Homo sapiens: one gene and its partner. The protein of the gene in region 2 purifies or fractionates together with the protein of the main gene of each other region. This does not show direct contact. Each region holds a gene or a part of one and is shown on either strand. Other genes may lie near its edges.

Region 1 (7,385 bases), on a different chromosome or scaffold from region 2:
CCAGAAAAGTGGGAGGCACCAGCTCCTGCCCCTCAGCTCGGGGCTCCGAGCCCAAAGGCCCCCCAGTCCGCCTCCTTCAGAGCAGGGGAGGACAGACAGTACCTGCTCCAGGGGCTCAAGGGGAATTTGGGACTCCAGGGGTTGGAAGGGGGGAATCTCTAGCTCAGAGGTGCAGGACCCCGGTCTGCCACAGAGTGGCGCTGTGCAGACTTGGCTCTTCCTGGGGCCGGCGATGCTGAGCCCACAGGCAGGCTTGGCTTCTGCTCTGAAACCACAAGGCACTCAGATCTGCAGCCCCTGAACTTCCCCCAGAGACAGGGAAGTGACTGCTGGAGGGGAGGGCTCATCGGGGCCATCGGAGGAGGCTTCCTGCTGTGAGCGCGGTGTCCGCCCCACGCCTGGCCCCAAGCCTCAGTTTGCCCCTTGTTCCTACCCCCAGTGTGTACGTTAGGATCAGCTGGGGAGCTCTGACAACCCCCAGACCCGGGTCAGGAACCCAGAGGCTGTGGCTTAACTGGGCTTGGAAAGGCCTGGCCAGCAGCAGTTTTAAAACACCGAGTTTGGAGATGTACAAGCCCCTTTGAACTCTGACACTCCAAGATCCTAAAAACTGTCCCAAACAGCTCAGAGCCTGCGCCACAGTGGACACCTTGTTGCCTTCCTTGTTTTGAGCTCAGCCTCACTGTGCCTAGAACTAGGACTTCCCGACCTCCCTTCCCAAGGCAGGGCTGACCCTAGGTCACCGGAGGCTCCTGGCGGGCTCTCACCAGCTCTGGCCCGGCACCGCCCCCAAGGCTCCAGGAAAGAAAACTCCAAGCGTCAAAACCGTGGTTGGCTCCAGCTTCCCCAGCTTCCCCTCCTGACTTTGGTGTCTGCTGCCAGAGTGACAAAAGCCATCCTCGCACCCGGCCCGCAGGAGATCAGGAACGCTGCCGACACGGGGCTGGCTGTCTCGGAAAGTCTCTTAGGAAGCACCGAGGTCGCTGCTCTCGCAGGCCAGGGCCTCTTCCAGCGCTCCTGAATCTACCTGGGCGGGGCGACTCCCTGCACAGCCGGCGGCCGGGATGACACACTTCGCCGTCGGAGCCTGCGCCCTGGGCCCCTCACCTGTGGCGTGGCGGCTGAGTCAGGCACAGCCTGTGCCTCAGGTTCTGCCGTCCCTGCTGGTGGAGGCGGCCGTAAACACAGGGTGAGCAACACTGAAGTGCCCCAAGCTTAAGCAACACCGAGGGAGGCCAGGGAAGGCTGCTCACCTGGGTTCCCCCTTCCACCCCTGCCGGGAGGCGGGAGCACGGAATCCCAGAGGAGAGGACGAGACGGCCGACCAGGGGGCACATTTCACAACGCCCCCACCAAGACCTTCTCTCTGCCCCTTTGTCCCCCGCCGCCTGGAAATCGGCTTAGGCGGGTTCGCTTCCACCCGGAGTGCGGCTGGGCCTTTTGTTCAGGCGCCTTTTACAAAAGGAGCCCTCTTTCCATTTGGTGGCCCCGCTTTTTGTTTCCAAACCCCAACCTGTGTGGCCGCTACCCCTCAGGCCCCAGATAAGGCACCGCAGCGGGGAGCAAGGGTTTAGTGTGTTTTAAACGCACTTTGTACAAAGGCTAGTTTGTAAGAGCCAAACCGACTCAACTCCGGCTGGCATCCACCGCCCAGCTGGGAACCCGGCAGGTGCTCCCCCACCGCCAGCACGCTGCCCTCGGAACTCAGACGGGCACTGCGGCCAGGCCCCCGGCCCACCACGTGGAAAGGGCGCAGCCTCCACTCCCCCATCTAATGAGGGTGTCGCGGTGTCCCTTCCCCCCATCTGGGAACCCCCTCCCTATGGCCTGCGCCTCGAGTCTCCACCGCACATTTCTAAGTGCCCCCCTGGTCCCCCACCCGGCGCTGGGGAGGGGAGGCGGAAAGCTGGGGGTGGGCGGGCGCAGGGAGGGTGAGCTCCACTCCCGCTCCGCCTCCATGAAGGGAATTTAATTAGCCTGCTAGAGAGGCGGGCGGGCGGCCGAGGAGGTGTCTCTGGTGCTGCAATATAATTGAATCGGCTCCACTCGGTCGGGCCACTCGCCGCCCATCAGCGCGGCCGCAGGGCCCGGGAGGGCTGGGGGCGGGGAGGCGCATCCAGGCGGAGCAGGAAGGGCCGGGGAGGGAAAAAGGCCAGTGCGGGTGGGGGGCGGCGGATGTGCAATCCCTCTCCCACCTCCGAGGCTGGGGCAGCCATCTTCTGCGGGGGGGAGGGGAGGGGCAGGGAGCCGCTCCGCCGGGGGTGGGGGGAGAGAGAGGAGAGAAGCGGCCGAGCCCGGGGCGCGCCCTTCCTCGGGAAGCAGGGCGTGGGGGTCACAAACCCGGCAGGCTGCGGTCCCGCCCTCCCGACCAACTCCCCCGAGACAAGGGGTCGGGGAGGGGGAGGGGAGCAAGACAAGAACCCTAACCGGCGCGGCCCCAGTAGCGAGCACCCCCCCCCCCCACACCCCCGCTTCCTCGGCCGTCGCCAGCACCTGCCGCGGGGGCGCACAGCCACCCCCATTCGCTCCCTCCCGCGTCGCCGCAAAGTTTTCATTCCAGCTCTCCAGCGCCCGCAGCTCTCGGAGACTCCCCCCGCCACCCCCATCCCCCCACTTTACCTGCCCTCTAGCCCGCACGCACTTAAACGCACCCCCCCCATCCCCCGCTGAGCGCACTCCTGAGCCCGGAGCCCCCGAGTCCCCGCCCGCAGCCAGGCCTCCCAGGCTGCGACCCGCGGGCGGAGGAAGGGGGTGGCCTTTGGTCGCCTGCCCGCCCTCCCGGCTCTTATCGCCGCTAACACTCCGGGGAAGTTGCCCGGGAGCCGTTGGCGGCCGCCCCCGCGAAACCCGCGAACTTGCAGGAGGACAGTGCGGTGGGGGGAGGGGGGAGGACCCCGTCCCCGGCCGGGTGCGGCGCGCTCACCTTTCATGCCAGGGCCCCGCAGCTCCACCTCGGCTGATACATGCTGGAGCCACCGTCGCCCAGTGTTTGTCTAAACTGCTTATCTCACCCGGGGCTGCTCGGCGGCGGCAGCTCGGGCCCGCTGGGGAGGTGGAGCTTCCGGGGCCCCGGCCAAGAAACACCTGCTGCTGTCGCCGCCGAGGACACACCCAAACGCAACGCCGCCCACTCCCGGGCCACTGGCTCGCTCCCGGCTCCCTGACCTCAGCCAGCGGGAGGTGTCGGGTTTCAGCCGCAAACACACAGGCGCGCGCGCGCGCACCGACGGGCGCCCGGATCCACCCGCCCAGGCACACGCCCCTCCCCGGCCCGGCCGGCCAGGTGAGCCGGGGACACCAGCGGGGCCGCGGAGGTGCCACCCCCACACTCTCGGGAGCCCCTGGCTGGACTGCTCGGGGGTCCCGGGGACCTTGGTGGCTAAGACCGGCCACTTAACTCTTAAAGTAGTGCAGCACCCTCGCCACGTGAGCGGAGCCCTGTCTCGCAGCTGCGTCCCGGGAACCTAGAACAGTGCCTGACACAGAGCAGGCCCAATAATGGGCGGACGGGTAACTCCGTGTCCTGGAGGCCTTTTGGAGAACAACTTTCTGGGCGCTGGTGGCGCGTGGGGTGGGGGGAGGCGACACAAAACAGACTGTGTACCCAAGCCCCACCCCCCCCATGCCTGACCTTATTACCCCAACTAGAAAAGGCTGAATACTAAGAACTTGGCCTCAAAATTCCATAAGGCACCCCACCCCCCAGTTTTAAGTAACTTTTGGGAAGGCCACAATTGCGGGCCGCTGCGGGGGGTGTTCTTTAAAGAACCCGCGGCCCAGGGGCTGGAGAACCCACGGAGGCGCCGCTTCGCCAGGGGGATCATTAAGTAGCTGGGGTTGCGGTCAGAGGCGAGGTCGCCCGCCTCCAGAAACTGGCACGACCCATTGCGCTTCTGGCCCCAGCGCAGCGCCTCCCCATTCCTGGCACCCCCCACCCTACCTCACCCAGGCACTTGACTGGAATGACTCAGGGAGCGTCCTGAAATTCCTGGGCACCCACAGGCGGCGCGGAGAGGGACTGAAGGCCCCAGCCTTCCCACCCCCCGGCTCCGCCCACCCCGCCCCGCCCCGCCCCGCCCCCACCCCATCGCGGCGGGCGCGTCCCCAGGAAGCTCGGGGTTAAAGGGGCGGGCCTCGGGGGCAGGGGTCGGCGAGCCTCCCCTGCCGCCTTCTGGCGCCCTGGGCTGTAACCCCCCCGGGCGGCTCTGAGGCCCCGGGGTCGCTCCCTCCTCATCCTCTTCCAACACCCCTCTGATCTAGCGCGTCCCTACTTCTGAGCCCTGGGGCAAACCAGCACCCCCTGGGCGGCCGCCCCAGCGCTGCGCTGCGGTGCGGGTTTCGACTTTCAGCCCCCTCGTGCCAGCCCCAAACCTGCCCCGGGACATGCCCGCGCCAGGCTTGGCAGGCGCGCACGCTGCCGTCCCCGCGAGCCCGCCTCCCCCGCCTTCCTCCCTCCCCCTCCCCGCGCCAGCCCGGATTGCGACGGGAGCGAGCGCTGGGCGCCTGCCACCCCCCATCCATCTGTTCCCGATGACGCTGGCGGGCCTAGAGCGTTCGGGGCCCGCGCCAGCGGGGAGCAGAACCAGCCTGTGTGCCCTCCGGGGGGCAGGGTCTGGCGGGCTCCCTCAGGCCCCACGCTCCCCGCTCGACCTCCGACCGAGCGCGCGCCGGGGCCCGGAGGTGGGGGCGCACGCGGGCCGGCCCCCCGCCTTGCACAAGGCTCCGGGCAGACCACAAACGAAAAGGGAAACGGACCGGCGAGGCCGGGTCGGGCCGTTACTGGCTCCTACCTGCGGACGCTGGCCGGCCCTGGCACGGCGCGGGGGTGCTGCTTCCCCGCACGACCCGCCAGCTCACCGGCGGCGCCCCCCTTGCGGCCTTGGCCGGACGCTATAATTTACGCACCACACGGTGGCTCGGCCGCGCGGGCCCGGGTAATTTATACCCGCACTGGCCGGCGGATTCACCCGGCCCCAGGCGGCCAGGGCTGGGAGGGGGAGGGGGAGGGGGAGGGGCGCCTCCACCCCCACTGGGAGTCACGGGCGGGGGGAGGGGAGGATAGGGAGGTGTTAGGAAGGAATGGACGACGACTGGCCCCGAGCCTTAAAAACAAAATTCACCTCCGGGACTGGCCCAACCCCTTTCCCACCTGGATTACAAGCTGCGGGGGGAGGGGAACAGCATGCAAATGAACCTCTCGCACCTGGCCGGGTAGACACCTAGGCCCCACCTCCAGGTCTCTCACCCGGACACGGTGCCACCACCTACTCCCTTCTTCCTTGGAGAGGCCCTTGGGCCAGGGGTGAAGGTGGGGTTAGGTTTCTCCACCTGTTTGAGCAGGACCACGACGGCCAACCACAAAAACGTGTGGAGTGGCCACTGGGAGGTGCATCACTCGGCTTTTTAGAGCCGGCCAATCCCTCCGGCGTATACATCTAGCTCCCCTGGATTGCGAGATGGGTGGTCTGGTCCCGTTTCACAGATGAGGAAGTTGAGGCCCTGAGTTGCTCAAGATCATGTGCACACAGGTGACATGCAAGCTGCGCCCCAAACTGCTCACACCTGGAAGTCACTCCCCTTCCCAACCCAGTAGGCCTAGGGGAGCGAGGCGCTGCCGGACACCCCGGCAACCGCCGGGGGGCAGCAGCGAGCCGCTCTGTGAGTCCTGGCCGGGAAACGCTGGCGGCCACCAGGCGGGCTGGCAAGGGGGAGATGGATGACACTCACTGTCAGTGCGCCCGGCCCCCGGAAATTAGTAATCCGGAGCACGGCCTCCGAGTTTAAGGGTGGGAATTGCTCTCCTGCAGCCGGCGCGCTCCTCGCTAACGAGGTTTGTCGCTTGACTCCTAATTTCCCAGCACTGGGGCTAAGGCTGGCCTCCCTCCATTTCCCTCCAGGCCTGCTCCTCCTCCTCTCTCTTCCTAAGCAGCGCCCTACCCACAGCCCCGCGCCCCCAGATAGTGCGAGCCCTTCCTGGGCACAGCTCTCTTTCCCTGGACCTCCTTCCCACCCTCCACTCCCATTTGCCTGGAAGGAGCTAGGTAGGTGCCAGGGCCAGGCCTACGGAGGCACCTCCCAGAGCAGGACACCTGCCCTGGGGATGCTGCACGCGGTGCTCCTTACCACGGACTGTGCTTTGTGCCAAGGCAACAGGATGCTGGTGCCTGGTGCGCGTTTGCTCACACCCTGAGGCCCCTGCCAAGCTAAACTGTGCCTCCAAGAGCGGAAGGCAGGCTCCCAGCCCCTCACCTGCCTCAGGTACCTGCTTCAGTGACACCTAGGTGCAAACTCTAGCCCTACCTCCACAAGCCCTGGAACCTATTAGACCTGCACCACAAAAGAGATTTAAAATTTAAAAGCTTTCCTAAGGGCATGGTAGCTCACGCCTGTAATCCCAGCACTTTGGGGGGGCCAAGATAGGCATATTGCTTGAGATCAGGAGTTCGAGACCGGCCTGGACAACATGGCAAAACCCTGTCTCTATTAAAAACAAAAAAAAATTAGCCCTGCATGGTGGCGTGTGCCTGTAGTCCCATCTACTTGGGAAAGTGAGGTAGGAGGATCCCTTGAGCCCAGGAGGCAGAGGTCGCAGTGAGCTGAGATTGTGCCACTACACTCTAGCCTGGGCGACAGAGTGAGACCCTGTTTCAAAGGAGGAAAAAAAAAAGAAAGCTTTCCATCTCAGATGAACATGAGACACCTTAAACCTACTCCCTGAGCTCAGGAACTAAGAGGGGTGTCTGGAGACGGGAGTCCTAGGAGGATCCACCAGAAAGAAAGGGACGCCTTGAACCACAGAGGGTGGGCGGTTTTTCACTCAACAAACACACTAAACCCTGGGCTGTGTTTCACACTTGGTTTTCCAGAAACAAAACTGAAAATTCCAGTAAGCCTTCAGCAAGCACCTCAGAGAGGCCAGGGTTAGCTGGGTGTGATGGCACAAGCCTGTGGTCCCAGCTACTCGCGAGACTGAGGCAGGAGGATCATTTGGGCCCAGGAGTCTGAGGCTGAGGTATGATTGTGCCACTGCACTCCAGCTTGAGCCACAGAGCAAGACCTTGTCTTTTTTTGGTTGTTTTTAAAGGTGGGGGCGGCAAGGGACAGACAGCAGAGGGCAGATGCTGACAGAGGGGACACTTCAAGGCAGCAAGGAAATTTGGAAGGCAAGGGGGCAGGATGACAGCACAGACCACCACCACCACTGCCTGGGCATCAACCTGGGCCACGTCAGGTGCTCAGGGGTGCGGGCGCCACCCGTGACTGTCACAACCTCACTAAGTCTGAGCACACGGCCTAGCCCTGGCGGAGGATGGATCCCGGACACGTTCTTTCTGGTTCTTGCTTCTTCTAGGGCTCAGCAGGACAGCACACAGCCTAACCCAAGG
Region 2 (7,687 bases):
TCATTTTTCTTTTTCTTTTTTTTTTTTTTTTGAGACGGAGTCTCGCCCTGTCGCCCTGGCTAGAGTGCAATGGCGCAATCTTGGCTCACTGCAACCTCCACCTCCCGGGTTCAAGCAATTCTCCTGCCTCAGCCTCCCGAGTAGCTGGGATTACAGGCACCCGCCACCACGCCCAGGTAATTTTTGTATTTTTAGTAGAGGGGGAGGGTTTCACTATGTTGGCCAGGCTGGTCTGACCTCAGGTGATACACCCGCCTCGGCCTCCCAAAGTGCTGGGATGACAGGCGTGAGCCACCGCGCCCGACCCCTCCCACCTTTCTTGATCTTCTTCTCCTGGATCTTCTCCGTGCACATCTTATAGGCTTCAGACTGCTGGTACGCCCGCAGCTCCTTCATGTACTGCTGCTTCTCTCTCTCGGCCTCATCCAGGTACCGCTGGGGGGCAGCACCAGAAGGCTTGAAGCAGGGGAAGCCTCCAACGCCAGGATCCAGTCTTTATCACTCTGCTTTCACAGCACCCTCCCCTCTCCTGAACCTTCTATAGCTCCCTATTCCCTCCAGGCAGACAGAACCGGCTCCTCAGCCTGTTGCTCAGGGACCTCCGAGCTCCCACCTCACTTCCCATGCCCCGGACTCTTCCCCACCTCCAGCCCTGACAAACCACTCCCGGACGCCAGAGTCATGGGCAGGAACCCAACCTCCAGCGTATGCGGATGCCTGGACTCCCTCCCGCACCCGTTTCTCTCTTTGAAATCTCACTTACAGGGATGCAAAGCAGTGATGGCTTTTGTTACATTTCCGTGATGTTTTTGCAATTTTTAAACTAACAGGATATGAAAATCGGGTTTCGCAAAAAATCCAGGCCCCATCCTGACTTCTTAGACATATCTTTGTTGGTCATCCAGTTTTCAATCTGTCTTGCCTCTTGCTAGCCGCGCCCCCAAAAGCTGGTCATGGGCTGGCCACGGTGGCTAACGCCTTTAATATCAATACTTTGGGAGGCTGAGGTGGGCGGATCATTTGAGGTCAAGAGTTCGAGACCAGCCTGGCCAACATGGCGAAACCCCATTTCTACTAAAAATACAAAAATTAGCAGGGCATGGTAGCACGCGCCTGTAATCCCAGCTACCTGAGAGGCTGAGACAGGAGAATTGCTTGAAGCCGGGAGGCGGAGGTTGCAGTGAGCTGAGATCACGCCACTGCACTCCAGCCTGGGCAACAGAGCAAGACTCCATCTCACAAAAAAAAAAAAAAAAAAAGTTGGTTATGGGTGGGCATTTCTCCAGGAAGAAGGAAAAACCCTGCACGTGGAATCCTTTGGGGGTCGGGGCTACTGGGGGGTAGTCCGTGGACCCCGCCAGCCCTGCTCGGCGCCCCGCCCCGCCCACCTGCTTTTCCGTTGGCTGCAGCTTGCTCCACTCGGCGCCCAGCATCTTGGTGATCTCGGGAAAGGGCAGATCCGGGTGGCGCGTGCGGATCTGCTCGCGCCGCTCGTTCAGGAAGCGCACGTAGCCCGTGACCGGTGCCTTGGGCCCATTCGGCAGAATCTTCTTCCGCTTCTTGCCCTTGGGCCAGCCGCGTTTCTTCACCGGCTGCAGAACCGGGCTGCGTCGTTGGGAGGGGGGCCTGGCGTACTGGGGCAGGGCTCAGAGGGGCATGGGCGGGGCCTAACGCGTATGGGCGGGGATGGGGGCGGGGCCTAGCTGGGAGGAAGAACCCGGAAAAGATGGAGGTAGGGCCCGGTCAGCAGTCGGGACACGGTGGGTTAGAGGGATCCCTGGCCAGGGGTGAGGGGATCTGAGGAACTATGGGCCGAGGTTTGAGTACAGGGTTGGCGTTGACTTCGGTTGTGGGCGTGGCCTCTGCTTGGTGGGCGTGGTTTTCTGCTGGAGAACGGGCCCACAGGACCAAGGGGAGGGTGCCGCCCCCAAGGAGTGGAAGTGGGCGGGACCTTAGAGTGGGCAGAGCTGGCATTGTGCGGTGGGCGGGGCCTGGACTTAGAGTGGCAGAGGACCTGTCAGGGGCGTGGCAGCTGGCACGGGGCGGGGTCTCAGCTTCCAGAGGAAAATGGGCTGTGGGCGGAGCCACAAGCAATTCAAATCCAGCCTGGGGCGGGGCTTCGAGGCTGGGGCGGGAGCCCGGGGCCTCCCCCAGCTCAGCGCAGGGACTCTCACCTCCTCCTCGTGGGACCCCTTCTCGCCCGCGCGTGGACCCTCGCCGCGCTCTTGCTTGACAGTCACCACGAAGCCCCCATGCTGGCCCGGAGCCTTGCCGCCCGCCGGCCTGGAGCCAAGGATACCGCGGTCAGCCCCGTCCCAAGAATCTCCCCTCCCCCAAAAGCCCACCCCAGGGCGTTTTGACCCCCGACGGCGGGGCTGCAGCGAGAGTGCATGAGCCCGAGGAGGCAGGGTCTGATGGGGTCAGTATCCGGGGAAGGTGGGACAAGCGGGGCTCCTGGGAGGGACTGGAGGCCGAGGTGGGGGGTGCAGAATTGGGTGGAGGGAGAAGCCCCCTGACCCAGGTGGGGGAGTCAAGACTCCGGCGGGAGGGACTGGGTCAGGGGTTCAGGAGCTAGGGCTGCAGCCGGGAAAGTAGCGAGGGCGTGGGGAGGGGATCAGTGCACTCACGCGGCGGCCGCGCCGGGCTGCTTGGGGCCGTGGGACATGGCCGCTCCGGGCCGGACCTGGAACACGGACGCGGGCGGAGGTGAGTAGCGCCCGGGCTGCCCGATGGCAGACCGCGAACTGGGGTACCCCGCGATGGAGAGCCCCGGGATGCCGGGCCCGGAGCGCTGGGGGGGCCGGATCCAGGGGCAGGGAAGTCCTCGAGGGCGGGCGCCCCAAGAATCCTTTGTTGGGCGATTGCCCCCCCCGGGAGGCCTGGGCCGGTTTCCCCCGGGCCAGGAAAGACCCCGGCCCGGCCCTGGGACCCCTGCACCCCCGCCCCCTCTCAGGGCCCGGAGTTCCGCGGCTGTTTTCACCTCCAAAGAAACTTTCCCGGACCTCCCGACTGCGCGACGCTCCAACCAACCGCCCGCAGCCCGCCCCCGTCGGCCGCCCCGCCCCTCCCCGCCCCCGGCATGCTAATGAAGGCCTCGGCGAACGGTCCCATTGGGTGAGACCTTCCCCCCGGGCGAGCCCATGCAGATACCGATCGGCGCGCCGGCCGGCGATTGGTTGGGGAGGTTGCTGAGTCGCGTGGGAGGTTGGTAAGGAAGGCTGCGGGCGGTGCGTCAAGTTCGGCTGCGCTCGGCCGCGCTCGGGACCAATCGGGAGCGAGTGGCGGACTTGCCGGGCGGAGCCTCTTAAAGGGCCAGTAGGAGAGGCGCGGACTCCTCCTCCCTCTCTGAAGGCAAGACTCCCAGCCGCTGCCGGATGGGGCGACCGGCGGATCCGGGTCGGGCCCCGCCCCGGTTGCCATGGGGACGGAGGTGGGTTGCTAGGGTTAAGGTCCTGCGAGGCAGTCCCCAGCCCTAGGCAAGGTGGGACCTGTTCTTAACATCCTGCAAAACCTAGCGGAGAAGTTTCCTATGTATTTACTCAGTTTAGAGCCCCCGACGTCCGGATCCGAGGGCTTCTGGCCATAGGGGCTGCTCTCCCTCTGGGGTCTCGGCTTTCCCCCCTGTGCAACGGGGACATCACACGATATCCAGGACAGAGAGACTGGGATGCTGGGAAGCTGAGAACTGGGTGTGGGTCAGGCAGGGGGTGGGGTTGGGAGCTGGGCTGGAAGTGTTTGGGGAAAGATGGTGGTGAAGGGAGATGGCAAGGACTTCGTGAGGATGGGTCAGGAGGCTCCGCTCTGGTGGATCAGGGACCTCCCAGCAGCAGTCTAGGCTTCTGGCCCAAGTTGGGGCTGCTCACCTCCTCTTTTGTTTTTGAGACGGAGTCTCACCCTGTCGTCCAGGGTGGAGTGCAGTGGCTGGATCTCGGCTCACTGCAACCTCTGCCTCCCGGGTTCAAGCAATTCTCTGCCTCACCCTCCCGAGTAGCTGGGATTACACGCGCCTGCCACCACGCCCGGCTAATTTTTGTATTTTTAGTAGAGACAGGGTTTCACCATCTTGGCCAGGCTGGTCTTGAACTCCTGACCTCGTGATCCACCCGCCTCGGCCTCCCAAAGTGGTGGGATTACAGACGTGAGCCCCCACGCCCGGCCCACTTCCTCTTCCTCAAGTCCGCTTAAATGTCACTTGCTCAGCCAGGCCTTCTCTGATTTTTTTTTTGCCTCCATAAGTCGGCTTCTCCCTGTGGCCTGCCTGTTTGGTTCACAGCATTGCCCATGGTGGATGCTCAATACACATTCATTGAATCCTTCAGATGTCTAGGAGGCAGATGCAGCTGCTTTGGAAAACAGACTGGCATTTCCTCAAAGGGTTAAATAAATGTGGAATCACCATGCAATTCAGCAGTTCACTCCTAGGAATATACTCCAGACAACTGAAAACAGGTGTTCAAACAAAAGCGTGTACACAAGCGTCGGTAGCAGCGTGATTCATAATAGCCAAAAAGTGAAAACAACTCAAACGTCTGCTAATGATGCATGGATCGATGACGGGATATATCCTTACAACAGAATATTATCCGCCATGGGCCGGGCGCAGTGGCTCACGCCTGTAATCCCAGCACTTTGGGAGGCAGGCGGATCACTTGAGGTCAGGAGTTCGAGACCAGCCTGGCCAACATGGTGAAACTCCAGTTCTATTAAAAATACAAAAACTAGCCAGGCGTGGTGGTGCACGCCTGTAATCCCAGCTACATGGGAGGCTGAGGCAGGAGGATCCCATGAACTGGGAGGCAGAGGTTGCAGTGAGCCAAGATTGTGCCACTGCACTCCAGCCTGGGCAACAGAGCAAGACTACGTCTCAAAAAAAAAAAAAAAGAATATTATCAGCCATAAAAAAAAGGAGCGAGTCTCTGACACAAGTCACAGCATGGATGTACCTAGAAGACATCACACTCAGTGAGAGACGCCAGACACAAAGGTCACACAGTGTGTGATCAGAATGTTCAGGAAAGGCCCATCCACAGAGACAGGAGGGGGACGTGTGGGTGCCAGTGGGTGGGGAATGACCACTGAGAGGGATGCGGTTTTCATTTGGGTGATGAAAGTATTTTACAATTTGATTTCAGTGATGGCTGCGTGACTCTGGAAATATATTACAAACCATGGAATTGTATGCTCTAAATGGGTGCATTATATGTGAGTTAAGTCTCAATAAGCCCATTGTCCTAAGATGCAGCCCGGGGCTGAGGAAGAGGAGCTGGCCCTGGAATCTGGACGGTTCCACACGCCAGACCTGGCTCTGTTGCTTAATCAGCTCTCTGACCTCCCAGGCCTCCCCTGTGTCTCTCTGCTCACTTAAAAATAGTCTAGGTGAGGCTGGGTGTGGAGCCACCCCTCCCGGCCATAGTCAATAACAATTTAATTGAACATTTATTTTATTTTGTTTATTTATTTTATTTTATTTTATTTTATTTTTTTGAGATGGAGTCTTGCTCTGCCGCCCAGGCTGGAGTGCAGTGGCACCATCTCGGCTCACTGCAACCTCTGCTTCCCGGGTTCAAACGATTCTCCTGCCTCAGCCTCCCAAGTAGCTAGGATTACAGACATCCGCCACCACGCTCGGCTAATTTTTTTTTTTTTTTTTTTTTTAGTAGAGACAGGGTTTCACCATGTTGGCTAGGCTGGTCTTGAACTCCTGACCTCAGGTGGCCGCCCGTCTCGGCCTCCCAAGGTGCTAGATTGCAGGGGTGGGCCACTGCGCCCGGCCTTTTTGTTTGTTTTTTGTCATTTATTACTATGATTTATTTGCCAGTTTTTATAGCATGAAGCCAGGAACAGTATACCAATTTATAATCCTAGAGGTGGAAGCTCTCCATTAAGGATGACTTGCCTTATAATTCTTTGGTTTTCTAATTAATTTTTATTATGCAAATCATGTTCACATCCATTTCACTTGTACAGAATTAAGGAAGTGCAGCTCAGACCTCTTTAATTTCATTACATTTCCTATCGTCAGCTTATTGCTTTTTTTTTTTTTTTTTTTTTTTTTTTGAGACAGAGTCTCGCTCTGTCGTCCAGGCTAGTGTGCAGTGGCGCGATCTCGGCTCACTGCAAGCTTCACCTCCCGGGTTTACACCATTCTCCTGCCTCAGCCTCCCAAGTAGCTGGGACTACAGGTACACGCTGCCACGCCCGGCTAATTTTTTTGTATTTTTTAGTAGAGATGGGGTTTCACCGTGTTAGCCAGGATGGTCTCGATCTCCTGACATTGTGATCCACCCGCCTTGGCCTCCCAAAGTGCTGGGATTACAGTCGTGAGCCACTGTGCCAGGCCTTTTTTTTTTCTTTTTTTTTTTTTTGAGATAGAGTTTCATTCGCCCAGGCTGGAGTGCAGTGGCGTGATCTTTGCTCACTGCAACCTCCGCCTCCCAGGTTCAAGTGATTCTCCTGCCTCAGCCTCCTGAGTAGCCGGGATTACAGGCACGTGCCACCAAACCCAGCTAATGTTTGTATTTTTAGTAGAGACGGGGTTTTGCCATGTTGGCCAGGCAGGTCTTGAACTCCTGACCTCAGATGATCCGCCCACCTTGGCCTCCCAAAGTGCTGAGATTACAGGCGTGAGCCACTGTACCCGGCCGCATCTCTTTTTAAAATTTTTCCTAGCCACACTCACACACACACACACACACACACACACACACACGCACACCACACTGCATTGGTTTGCTAGGTAATAATTACGACAAACTGAGGGGCTTAAACAAGAGAAATTTATTGTTTCACAGTTCTGGAGGCCAGAAGTCCAAGAGGAAGGTGTGGGTAGGGCTGGGGCCTTCTGAGGGCGGGGAGAGAATCTGTCCCTGGCGTCTCCCAGTTTCTGGCATTGGCCAGCAATCCTGGGCTTTTCTTGTCTTGTAGGAGTGACACCCCGATGTCTGCCTGCATCTTCATGTGGGGTTCTCCCTATGTGCGTGTCTGCACCCAAATTTCCTCTTTTGATAAGGACAGCAGTCATACTGCGTCACGGCCCACCCTAATGATGTCATCTTAACTCATTATATCTGCAATGACCTTTTTCCAAATACGGTCACATTCTGAGGCCTTGGGGATTAGGACAGGAACCTGTGCATTCTGTGGGGACATGACTCCACCCACAGCACATGCCTACACACGTACACATGTGCGTATTCCTAATAAAGACGTGGGCTGGGCGCGGTGGCTCACGCCTGTAATGCCAGCACTGTGGGAGGCCGAGGTGGGTGGATCGCTGGAGGTCAGGAATTTGACACCAGCCTGGCCAACATGGAGAAACCCTGTCCCTACTAAAAACACAAAAATTGCCAGGCACGGTGGCTCACACCTGTAATCCCAGCACTTTGGGAGGCTGAGGTGGGAGGATCACGAGGTCCACAGTTCGAGACCAGCCTGGTCAACATGGTGAAACCCCATCTCTACTAAAAATACAAAAATTAGCCGGGCGTGGTGGCGGGCACCTGTAATCCCAGCTACTTGGGAGGCTGAGGTAGGAGAATAGCTTGAACACGGGAGGCAAAGGTTGCAGTGAGCGGAGATCCCGCCACGGCACTCCAGCCTGGGACAGAGCGAGACTCCGTCTCAAAAAAAAAAAAAAAATTTTTTTAACGTGAATATATATTTTTTATTTAGTCATTTTTGCTTACAG

What was found. The genes of interacting proteins can lie anywhere in the genome.
Region 1: the proteins of HMG20B (region 2) and GSE1 purify together in Homo sapiens (affinity purification with mass spectrometry; 4 studies listed by BioGRID and IntAct, with this or other methods). This does not show direct contact.

Annotation. Positions count from the first base shown.
Region 1 is NC_000016.10:85,608,937-85,616,321, reverse strand, and holds the start of GSE1 (genetic suppressor element 1), read right to left. Parts: upstream 3,001-7,385; 5' UTR 2,931-3,000; coding exon 2,924-2,930; exon of another isoform or gene 2,494-2,923; intron 792-2,493; exon of another isoform or gene 768-791; intron 749-767; exon of another isoform or gene 1-748.
Region 2 is NC_000019.10:3,568,288-3,575,974, reverse strand, and holds the start of HMG20B (SWI/SNF-related matrix-associated actin-dependent regulator of chromatin subfamily E member 1-related), read right to left. Parts: upstream 3,032-7,687; 5' UTR 2,981-3,031; exon of another isoform or gene 2,684-2,980; 5' UTR 2,666-2,683; coding exon 2,628-2,665; exon of another isoform or gene 2,284-2,627; coding exon 2,175-2,283; exon of another isoform or gene 2,158-2,174; intron 1,593-2,157; coding exon 1,389-1,592; intron 436-1,388; coding exon 315-435; intron 1-314. UniProt on the Homo sapiens protein: Required for correct progression through G2 phase of the cell cycle and entry into mitosis. Required for RCOR1/CoREST mediated repression of neuronal specific gene promoters.